Linked DNA regions of Homo sapiens: region 1 is linked to region 2. Evidence: fine-mapped QTL for protein levels in blood plasma. Region 2 holds a variant in brackets. A gene starts in the other region. All regions are shown on their reverse strands.

Region 1 (5,374 bases), not on the chromosome of region 2:
GATGAAAAAGCTGCACTACTCTCCTCTATAGCACAACTTCAGGTTAAACCAGTCAAGCCTTCTTCGGTCTTTCTGTCCCTTCCCTTTCCCTTCTCCGCAGGTGGCTTTATCTGGAGGATTTCCAGGAAGGCTGGAGACAGGCATCTCTAATTTGGGTTCTGCCTCCTAGGAGCCAGAGGTGAGCTGGCAAAGTCCACTCTGGAAACCCTGCAGCTTCCTCACTCCACGAAGTCCTAATCTCTGCAGCTGCAGTGGTTTTGGAGGAGGACAGATGGGGAGAAAAGTGGGAATGTAACTGCAGTGTCTTTGAAGGCTGGATTCCCTGAAGGATTTTGGGGAACACAGCAGGGAAAGATGGAAATGGGCCCTGGGCAGTTCTCAAACAGGAACTGCAGATTCTGATACGCTAGTGCTCCCGGCAAACGCCAAGGATTCCAAAGAAATTGTCTGAGATGCAGAGGAGGCCAGAAAAGCCAGACTAAACATCCAAAGAGGTGGGGATATTAGAGGTGAGGGGCAATAAAAAAGAGAGAGAAAGAGACCTTACAAGACAAAGAGAGGCAAGGAAGAGAAATGAGGTGGTATAAAAGGGACCCCTAGAGACAATTTCAAAAGATGTGCTGGAGAGCAGACAGTTATTTATTTGAAGTCTGCAGCAATGTCACTGAGACTGCTGAAAATGAAAGAGAGAAGGAAACATTTCCACTCAACATTACTTTTTAATTGTTTATTCCATAGACTAGAAGTTAATTGACTTTTCTCTACATCCATGGTTCTGGGCCTCAGTTTCCTCATCTACAAAGCAAGGGGTTTGGACTAGATACCTTACAGGGTCTCTGCCTAACTTGATCCTCTCTGTCAACCTATGAGCCAGGGACTCCAAGACCAAGCATTTATCAGTTTTGATACCTAATTCCCCCCTTTTTCCTCTACCACCCCTCTTTATCAATGCAGTGTCAACACCTGCACCATTCATCGAACTGATGCCAATGCTCAATGATGACAGGGAGTATGGCTCAATTATGACAAATGATTAGTCCTTCTGCCCTGGAGTAAGGAAAGAAGGAATAGACAAGGCAGTATGATTTATACTGTGGATTTCCAATGAGAGGTTCTTCTCGAATTTTCAATTACAAATTTCATCCATTTAAATAAATTATAAATTCCTTTGAGGGGTTCCAAATGGTTGGACTGATCAAAGGGCCAAAGAGCCCTATTTGATGGCCCCCACACCCGATTTGAGGGAAAATTTATTTCATTTCATCCCCAAAATTGGATTTGCTTATTTCGTGGAAATCCAGCACGCACTAGCCATGCTTTTTTCTCATCTTTCTGCCTCATGCCCATTCTGCCAACCTGCTTCAGTGCAGCATTTTCTGGGGTTATTAAATACCCAAGGCTTAATGAGAGTGCATTCAAAAGTAAGTTGTTCAATGATGTAGGATCACCCCCTACTCCCCCCCACCACACACACACAAACACACGTAGGCAGTTTAAATGATAGTGGGGGTAAAATGTGTTTTCACAAGAGTTTCATTTTAAATTTGTCTCAACCTGAAATTCCTTTAGAAATTAAAATAAATATTAATATGTAGAAATAAAACTCCCCAGCTTTTCTTGCCTTCAACTGGAAAGTGATACACAAATAGTATGTACTTAGTGTTCTCCACAACCACCAACAATTCTATTTTATTTTAGTTTCCAAAATACGGACAGGAGGGCAACTCTAGAAAAATGGATTCCCACTCTGGCATCTCACAGGGCACTGATCAGGCAATGCGGAGCACTCATCATTTCCACCATGCAGGGAGCATCAGCCTCTCCTCGCTCCTTCCACGTACACATTCTTGTACCCCTGAGGGTATTCATCATTCTGATTTCCACCCGGGGTTTGACCTTGCAAAGACCCTTCTTCCAGTTTCTGGGCAAGGAACAACCCATTTTAACTCAAAACACAAAACGACCTTTTATCCTTTAAAGAAATACTACCAAATGTAACACACCTTGATTTACATTTTTTAACCCCAGATTCCGGATGGCGAACACGGAATGCAAAGGCAGGTAACTAGTTTGGGTCTGACAGTCCCCATTCAGCGACCGAGCCTGTGACTCCGTTCAAAATCGACAGTGCAGTAGAGCATCTTTCCCTTTTCTGCCCATTCACCATTGTGACAAAAATCAAAGACGAAAAAAATTATCTACTCATTTCTGAATACTGAGAGAAATGTGCTCATTTTGCGCCTGACTCCGTGGATCTTAAACACTAACATCCCGCTCAGAGATCAACCATGATTTCCATACCAATCTCATCCACTCAGTTTTACTTAGCAAACACCTTTGCTGCCCTTCCACAGTGAGAAAAATGGTGCACCAATCCCACGGATGACAGGTTGCTACTCGACTGTACCCGCTCAATAGTTTTATCAGCAACCGGAAAACTTCACAATCGGTCAATTAGCTACTTAAATCTGTCTAAGACAAACTAAGAAAGCATCTCAGTTTCACCTGTCTTAAATCTAGTCTAAGACAATCCCCCAAACACGCCGCATATAAACACTCCCCCTTCCCCCACCCCCAATATTCCAAAAGATCCCCCATGGACTAAGAGCACATTCAGATCGCCAGCATTAAGCAAGGAAATTGTCCCCATGCATTTAGACGCATCTATGCAAAGCAAAGTATGTGACAATAGCCAAAGCATTTCTCTGACAGTTGGTTGCACTACACATGCAGAAATGCAACGAAGATTGTATTTTCCACTTACAGTTACAGCGCTGCGCACGGTCACTTAACGAAAATGATAAAACTCAACAGTTCTTTTTAAAAATATATATTTAATTCGGGTAAACGCTTAAGCCGTCTCTGTGTGTGGTTCTCTCTCGCTCTCTTTTTCTCTGGAGCTCTGGGCTGCTTAAATCCCTCTTGGATCGCGCCTTGCAAGCCCAGCCGCTGCCGCAACACGCTCGGGTAAATCTCTGCTGCAGATTGGGAATCCCATAGAAAACCTAGGGTCCCTGGAGCTGGATGCGCAGGCGCGCGAGCCTCCGCCTCTCCAGGCACCCCCTCCCCTTTCCTCTCTTCCCTCCCCCCAGCTCCGCAGCCCCAGCTAGGAGAACTCGGGAGCCTGTGACCAAAAGCCGCCTGGCGATGGCGCATGCTCAGTCGGAGGGGCTCGGAGTTTCCGCGGGTGGATTCCACGTCTCCAGATTTTAGCAAAAGCTCAAAAGGAAAGTATATAGGAAAAGGGAGTCCGGCTACCGGAGCAACCCGCACCTGGACGGGCGCGAGGGACTGCGGGTTACCCGGACTCGCCACGCCCAGTGGTTACCGAACCTGGGGGCTGAAGGCCGAGGCCAGAGATGGAACACGTGGAGCCGCTTTTCCCGCTGCTTTCTGTCCTAGCCGACCCCCGGCCCACCCTTTGTTAGGCTGTAAGGTGAAGGAGAAAACTGCAGAAATCTCCGAAAGAAGACTTCCCAGCAAGCTGTGAGCACGTCTACCTGGCTTACTGAAGGAACGGTTATGGTGGTCATTTTGTCATGGGCCATTTCATCAGAGGGTCTTCTGCTAGGAGTACTGGGAGCCGGGTCCTGCAGCACCCAGTGCCCCGGACAGTCTCGGTCCAGAACGGCGTTGAAAAAATGTGTGTTAAAGGGAGCTGGGATCCGAGGCTTCTTGCCCTGTGTACCCTGAGCCAAGCGCCTTCTGTATGCACTTAAGTGTTTTTAACATATGCTTTGCGTCTGGGGTGGGAGGGGGTGGGTGAAAGGGCGGGAATGAACCATTTTGCGAACCCACGTTTAAGGGCTCTGATTAGGCCATCTTATAAAGCCCCCTTTGTGTCCTTGAACAACTAACAGGTTTGCCAGCCCTCCCCCCGGCTCCCCATTGGCCTGCCAAAGCCTAGAAGGCTTGGCAAGGAGTAGTGCCCAATAAATGTTTGGTCGGTCGCTTCCCTACCAGAAAAGCAAGGAGAATTCCCAGATGTTCCCAACCAGACCAGTTTTCCTCAAGTGTGTATGTTGTACATGAACTCATTCAACAATTATTCATGGAAGCATTTGCAAAACTATTAGACATTCCTTTATGCTTTGGGAATAAGTGCGGTTAACAAAACCCCCTCCTGGGCTTTACATTCAGGTGGGAGTTTTATTTTCAAGGGAGGGAAGTTCTGGGGGCGAGATGAAGATCGAGGTTCTCCTTAAGCAGAGCGCTGTACAATTTGCACAGCGTCTTCACACACCTTATCATGTTCAGGAAAACTGTAGAGTTGACCTACCCTTCGGTGCTGGGGACACCAAGAGCGTCTCCCGTGGCAAATGAGCTCTAAATTGACAAATCTCCAGCTGCTCCTGGTTCCAAGTCGAGGAGTCCAGCTTTGAACAAACTTGAGACTACTTAAGTGGGCACCAGGAGAAACTCCGCCAGACAAGTCTGTGGCTGTCGACATGCTAAGTGAGGGCCTCAGGCAGTGATGCCTAAGCCTCATTCGCTGCCAACCTAGCCAGCCCAGAACCCAGGAACTGGCTTCCCGGGCAGGACGCCTCGGGAAGGTTGCGCAAAGGGGGAGCGCGCTCTCGGGACTCCCGGGACACCGCCCGCGGCTGTCCCCTCTCGGCAGGGCTCTTCCGCCAGTGCTGGTGACCGCGGAAACCCGGAGCGCGGAGTCGCGCGGACCACGGCGCGCGGCCCCGGCGGGCTGCGGCAGCCGAGCACGTTTAGAATCTGGCGGGCGCCAGCCCTTCGCTCTGGAGCCGCAGTGCGCACTGCGCTGCGGGGCTCCCGGGCGCGCCGGGCTGCTCCTGTTTCCTGGGACTGGCAGGGGGAGTCAGTCCTGAATAAGTCACTTTTTCTTTTTAGCTAGAAAAACGACTTTCAAAAGGCTTTCAAAATCTCGTCTTTGGTCGATTTCCCCTACTACAGCATTTTACGCTGAGTTCTAGTTTCTCTCTCGAGAACAGCCTCCGCACTGTAATCTGCATCAACCCAAAGGGTCATGATGCCATTTCTCCACTTCAACGAGATATACCTATTTATTGCACCCTGGAGGTCTCTTTCGTGGCGGTGTTCGATTTTAGATAACTTACTTGCAACTTGTGTTTAGGAAAAAATGTACACTGATACTTTAAACCATGCTCTGTTGTAGGGTACGATTGATATCGACGCGTGCGCTTTTGTAAAGTAGCTTTGTCTACGTGGGCGGGCAGATTTTTTAAAGTTCCATTTGCACTGCAGCGCTGTTTGCGTCCTAAATGCGATATTGTAATGTTTAATATCCAGCTATTATGTAGCTTTATCTTTTTCAGCTTCTAATATTTTGTTGCTGTTTAATTTTTTTGGCATGCCTTTTAGTCGAGTTGTATATACGAAGTCA
Region 2 (5,357 bases):
CAGAGTAAGATGTAGAACTGACTTTTGTTGCAGTGTCATGTGGTGGTGAGACTCATCAGGTCACAGAGGTGGGGGGTTATTGAAAGGCCCTATGGCGGTGCACAGAAGAAGCAGATTCGGGGTGCTGCAGACAGGAGAGGGGGAGATGGAGCTCGAGTCCCAGCTCTCTGCCCCTTCCAGGCCCCAGCTTCCCCATCTGTACACCTTGGAAGTAGAGCTAGAAAGATGACCTCTAAGGTCCTATCCAGTGTGGGGACCTTGTGGAATGTGCATAGTGTGTGGCCAGTCTTTGAGGTTTGATCCTCTGGGCCAGGCTTTCAGCTTGGGCCTACTAAGTAGAATTCAAGATCTCTTTAAAATGGATGCAAATTTGTGTGGGTTTAGGCTGCATTTCTATAAATTCATCATCCCCCAAAAGGTTAAAAGACAGGTTTTGTTTATACAGTGGTGGAGCCGATGAGAAACGGAACCTCAGAGACCAGGGAAAGTGGCCCTGTGGCAGACTTGCTCAAAGGGGCCTCAGCAACCATCTCCCCCTGCAGCAACCCCAGCTGGCAAGCTGCCACTCCTTACATAACTGTTCTTTGGAAAACCAGGCAACAAAACCTCCAGGGGAAAAAAAGCTATTGATTATTAAAGGGTATTTAGAGGTTTAGAGACTCACAATAAAGCAGTTATAATTATTCCTGTAATGACACATCCTTCGAAATGCTCAGATCTGAGAACATTTTGCTTGCATTGCATCAGTCATCATCATTACAGGGAGAAATGCAGAGAGCTGGAAATAGCTCGTGTGCAAGCTACAGGCAAGGAGTCACAAGGAAAGGAGCAAATTGACAGCGAGTCAGTGAAGGAAACAGGGGAGCTTCCAATGCCCAGAACCTGCACACAGTCCTGCAGCCTCTGTCTCCCTGCCTTGCTGCCCCGCTTCAAAGCCAGCTTCTGCTGCCAAAGGACTCTTGGGGTTGAAATGCTTGTTGCACAGTTACACATCAGCTGACAGTCCTTCTCTGATTTAATGAACTTCATCTATGAAAAATACCCTCAACAGGCCGGGTGCGGTGGCTCAGGCCTGTAATCCCAGCACTTTGGGAGGCCAAGGCGGGTGGATCCCCTGAGGTCAGGAGTTTGAGACCAGCATGGCCAACATGGTGAAACCCTGTCTCTACTAAAAATACCAAAATTAGCCGGGAGTTGTGGTGGACACCTGTAATCCCAGCTACTCAGGAGTCTGAGGCAGGAGAATCACTTGAACCCGGGAGACAGAGGTTGCAGTGAGCCGAGATTGTGCCACTGCACTCCAGCCTGGGTGACAGAGTGAGACTCCATCTCAAAACAAAACAAAACAAAACAAAAACCCTCAACAGAATGTCAAAAAAAAAAAAAGAAGAAAGAAAGAAGAAAAGAAAAGAAAGAAGAAACCTGGGAAATACCATCATCTTTCTGCTTTTGATAATAACAATAACTAGCATTTATTGAGCATTTACTCTGTATCAGACACTCCTCTAAGTACTCTCTGTATATTATCTCATTTAATTCTCACAAAAATTCATGAGCTAGGAATGATAATTATTCCCATTTACTAGACAAAGAAGCTAAGGCATAAATTGGACACAGTTATACTTAGTATGGGGCAGAGTCACAATTTGAACCTGGCTGGGGTGACCCTGGAGCCCCCAGCAGGCCGCTCCCTGTTAAGGTTTCCAAGCGCACTCTTGGGCTGGTAGAACAGCCAGCAAGACGAGGGCAGGGGGAGGGATGGTGTCAGAGAGGCATCTCCCTGAAGAATCTCAGAGGACACTAAGTGTTGGGCAACATTTGGTTTGGTTTCGTGTCTTTCGTGGTTCACTTGGAGGCTTTAATCCCCCACTTTACATAGCCCTCTCCACGCTGTTTCTGTTCATTTGACAAGTATCTACTGAGCCGACACTTTGAGGTCCGTGGGTGATTCTGAGGAGAACTAGACACAGTGCCCATCCTGGGAGATGCATAATTAGGTGGGACAGGGGTGAAAATCAATCCAACAAACCAGAATACCAGGCAGAGAGCGCCCTCGTGGAGGTGCAGAGGCTCTGAGGAAGGCCTCACAGCAACAAGGACAGGCAGGTGTTCCCCTGCAGGATGAGGGTTCACATGGGCTGGGGAGAGAAGAGGAGGGACCGCCCACAGAGGGGACCATGGGCACAGCACTCTTACTTCATGATTGTGTGGCCTTAGAAGGCTCAGAATGACAACCCCAGCTGCTTTGCGTTCCCGCAGCTCCAGGTCCCTTCTCCAGCCACCCAGCCCCAAGATGGTGATGCTGCTGCTGCTGCTTTCCGCACTGGCTGGCCTCT[T/C]CGGTGCGGCAGAGGGACAAGCATTTCATCTTGGGAAGTGCCCCAATCCTCCGGTGCAGGAGAATTTTGACGTGAATAAGGTAAAAGGCGAACCTCCCGTTTGTTTTGCTGCCTCCGCTGTGAATAAGCGTTCTACAAGGTTCAATGTAATTATGCTGCTTTAATTTCCACTGCACACCTTGGGACAAGTATTTATCTTATTTGGGGTTTCCCCAAAGCAGACATCTGCTGAGATAAAGACTGCAGGCAGAGAGGTTTGGGATGATCCCGGGACGCACGAGAGCAGGTGGGAAGGTGAGTCGGAGACAGCACAGAAGCAATAAAGGGTGCGTTCCTGAGCTGTCGCCCTGGGCCGTCAGGGTCAGTCACACTGGGCACCCTCTGAGGACACGTGGAGCATGCCCCTCCGATTGTCCCACAGCTGCTGCCAGCAGGTCATGGGAGCATCCGTGGCTCTAGCTGAGCCCCCTGGCAGAGGAGAGACACAGGGTCTCAGGTGGGAGGCTGGCAGTGTCTGGGAATTGCCTACCGTGGCTGCGGTGAACTCAGAGGTGGGCTGAGGGGAACAGGACCAGGGAACCATAGTAGCTGCTACAGAGCTATTATCCTTGTTCTACAGATGCAGCATCGGAATCTCCCTCCCCAGCTCACGCAGCTGGTAAATGCAAGTAGGATTCAAAACCAGGCTTCTCAGCAGTGCAGGGCACCCAAAGGTCACTCAAACAGGGCTCAGGAAAGCCCAAAATTCTCCAGGGGGCTTTCTTGGTATCTGCACCAAAATGTCATCAATACAACGAGCTCCTCCATAGATGGTCTTTCTTCCTGGGGTTTAGCGGGAGGGGAAGGAAGAGGGCGGCAGAAAGAGGCAGCTATTGGAGGACAGGACTCACAGGCTCCCACTGTTGCTACTCAAGCCTGGAATCTCACCCTTAAGACTTCCTCTCCTTAGGAGAAGGTTTGGATCTCTTTTAAGAATGGCAACAGTAACATCGAAGTTGTTATCATACACTCGCACCTCAAGGTGAATGAGTGTTGGGACCTCTGAGGGGACGCTGGGTGGGAGAAGGAGCACCATCCATGGGATCAGGAGATACAGGTGTGGTAGGAAGAGGCCATAGAGTACACTAACGTCTACACTGACTTGCTCCACTTACAGGCTGATCCCTTTATTCAGGTAACTCTGATAGACCACAGAGAGGCTTTAAAGAAAACATCCAAGGAATCTGAGTTATACTTTCGCTTTTGGATACAAATCCCAAAGCACTTTGGAAATGATAACTGATCTGTATTTATAGAAGTCCTTTGAGAATTAAAGCAGGATTTAAAAAATAGCAGCTTTATTGAGATATAATTTGTATAGCACGTAATTCACTTGTTTAAAGTAGCTTTTCACTTTCCATTGTTGTTAGTATCATCACAGAGTTACGCAACCATCACCACCACCATCGATTTAGAACATTTCACTGTTCCGAAAAGGAACCTCATACCCATTCACGGAGTCTCCATCTCCCCTCCAACCCTTCCAGCCCCAGGCAACCACTAATCTACTTTCTGTCTCCGAATTTGCCTATTCTGCATATTTGATAAAAATGAAATCATACTATATGTGGTCTTTTGTGACTGGTTTACTGAACGTTTTCAAGGTTCATCCACGTTGTAGCATGTATCAATACTATATCCCCTTTTATTGCCAAATAATATTCTTGTAGGAAATCGTTATAGGAAATCAATTGACTGTATATGTGAGAGTTTATTTTTGCACTCTCAGTTCTATTGATCTATATGTCTATACTTATGCCAGTACCACACAGTGTTGATTACTATAGCTTTGTAGTAATCAAAGCCTTGAGGTAAGCTTTGAAATAAGAACACATGTGTCCTCCAACTTTGTTCTTCTGGTTATTCCGTGTCCCTTACATTTTTATATGAATTTTAGGATCAGCGTGTCAATTTCTGCAAATAATCCAATTGGAATTTGATACAGATTGCATTAAATCTGAAGATCAATTTGGGGAGTACTGCCATCTTAACAATATTAAGTCTTCTAACTTGTCAACATAGTGTATCTTTCCATTGAATTAGGTCATCTTTAATTTCTTTCAACAATACTTTGTAGTTTTCAGAGTATAAGTTTTATGTTTCTTTGGTTAAATTTATTCCCAAATATTTTATTCTTTTGATGTTATTGTAAATGGAATTTTCTTCTTTTTCTTTTCTTTTCTTTTTTTTTTTGAGACGGAGTCTCACTTTGTCACCCAGGGTGGAGTGCAGCATCACCATCTTGGCTCACTGCAACCTCCGCCTCCCGGGTTCAAGCAATTCTCCTGCCTCAGCCTCCCAAGTAGCTGGGACTACAGGTACACGCCACCACACCCAGCAAAGTTTTTTTGTATTTTAGTAAAGACGGGGTTTCACCATGTTGCCCAGGCTGGTCTCGAACTCCTGAGCTCAGGCAATCCATCCGCCTCGGCCTCCCATAGTGCTAGGATTACAGGTGTGAGCAAGCCACCGTGCCCGGCCTTTTAAATGGAATTTTCTTAATTTCATCTGCAAATTGTTCATTGCAAGTAGAGAAATATGTTTATATATGTATATATTTTTGTGTGTGTGTGACAGAGTCTTGCTCTGTCACCCAGGCTGGAGTGTAGTGGCACCATCTCAGCTCACTGCAACCTCTGCCTCCCAGGTTCAAGAGATTATCCTGCCTCAGCCTCCCGAGTAGCTGGTATTACAGTTGCGTGCCACCATGCCCGGCTAATTTTTAAATTTTTTATAGAGATGGGGCCTCGCCATGTTGGCTATGCTGGTCTTGAACTCCTGACCTCAAGTGATCCACCCGCCTCGGCCTCCCAAAGTCCTGGGATTACAGGCATGAGCCACTGCGTCTGGCTGAGAAATATATTTGATTTTTGAATATTAATCTTGTATCTTGTAACCTTGCTTAACTCATTAGATCCAATAGTTTTTGGTTTTGTCTCTGTTTTAGATTTCTTAGGATATTTTATATGTCATCTGCAAACA

Alleles and levels. Alleles are on the strand shown, and positions count from the first base shown. The strength of an association depends on the size of the effect and on how common the allele is.
With allele T in place of C in region 2, the plasma level of the protein whose gene starts at base 2,987 in region 1 is lower (strong association).

Evidence for each region. PIP is the posterior inclusion probability: the model's chance that the variant is causal. The UK Biobank Pharma Proteomics Project read protein levels with antibody pairs (Olink). The fine-mapping took linkage between variants from a reference panel, not from the people measured, so its PIPs are less certain.
Region 1: VSNL1 starts here. The variant in region 2 is fine-mapped to the plasma level of the VSNL1 protein (UK Biobank, PIP above 0.99).

What each region holds. Positions count from the first base shown.
Region 1 is chr2:17,538,309-17,543,682 of GRCh38, reverse strand. VSNL1 (visinin like 1) reads right to left here and starts at 2,987. Exons shown (of 4, transcript NM_003385.5): 1 at 2,765-2,987. RefSeq lists enhancers at 1-261, 4,563-4,682.
Region 2 is chr3:195,576,398-195,581,754 of GRCh38, reverse strand. APOD (apolipoprotein D) reads left to right here. Exons shown (of 5, transcript NM_001647.4): 2 at 2,260-2,416. The coding sequence starts at 2,294. Among named protein-coding and RNA genes, the nearest start is that of APOD, 4.9 kb to the left of the region's middle. The variant T/C (reference allele first, on the strand shown) is at 2,337.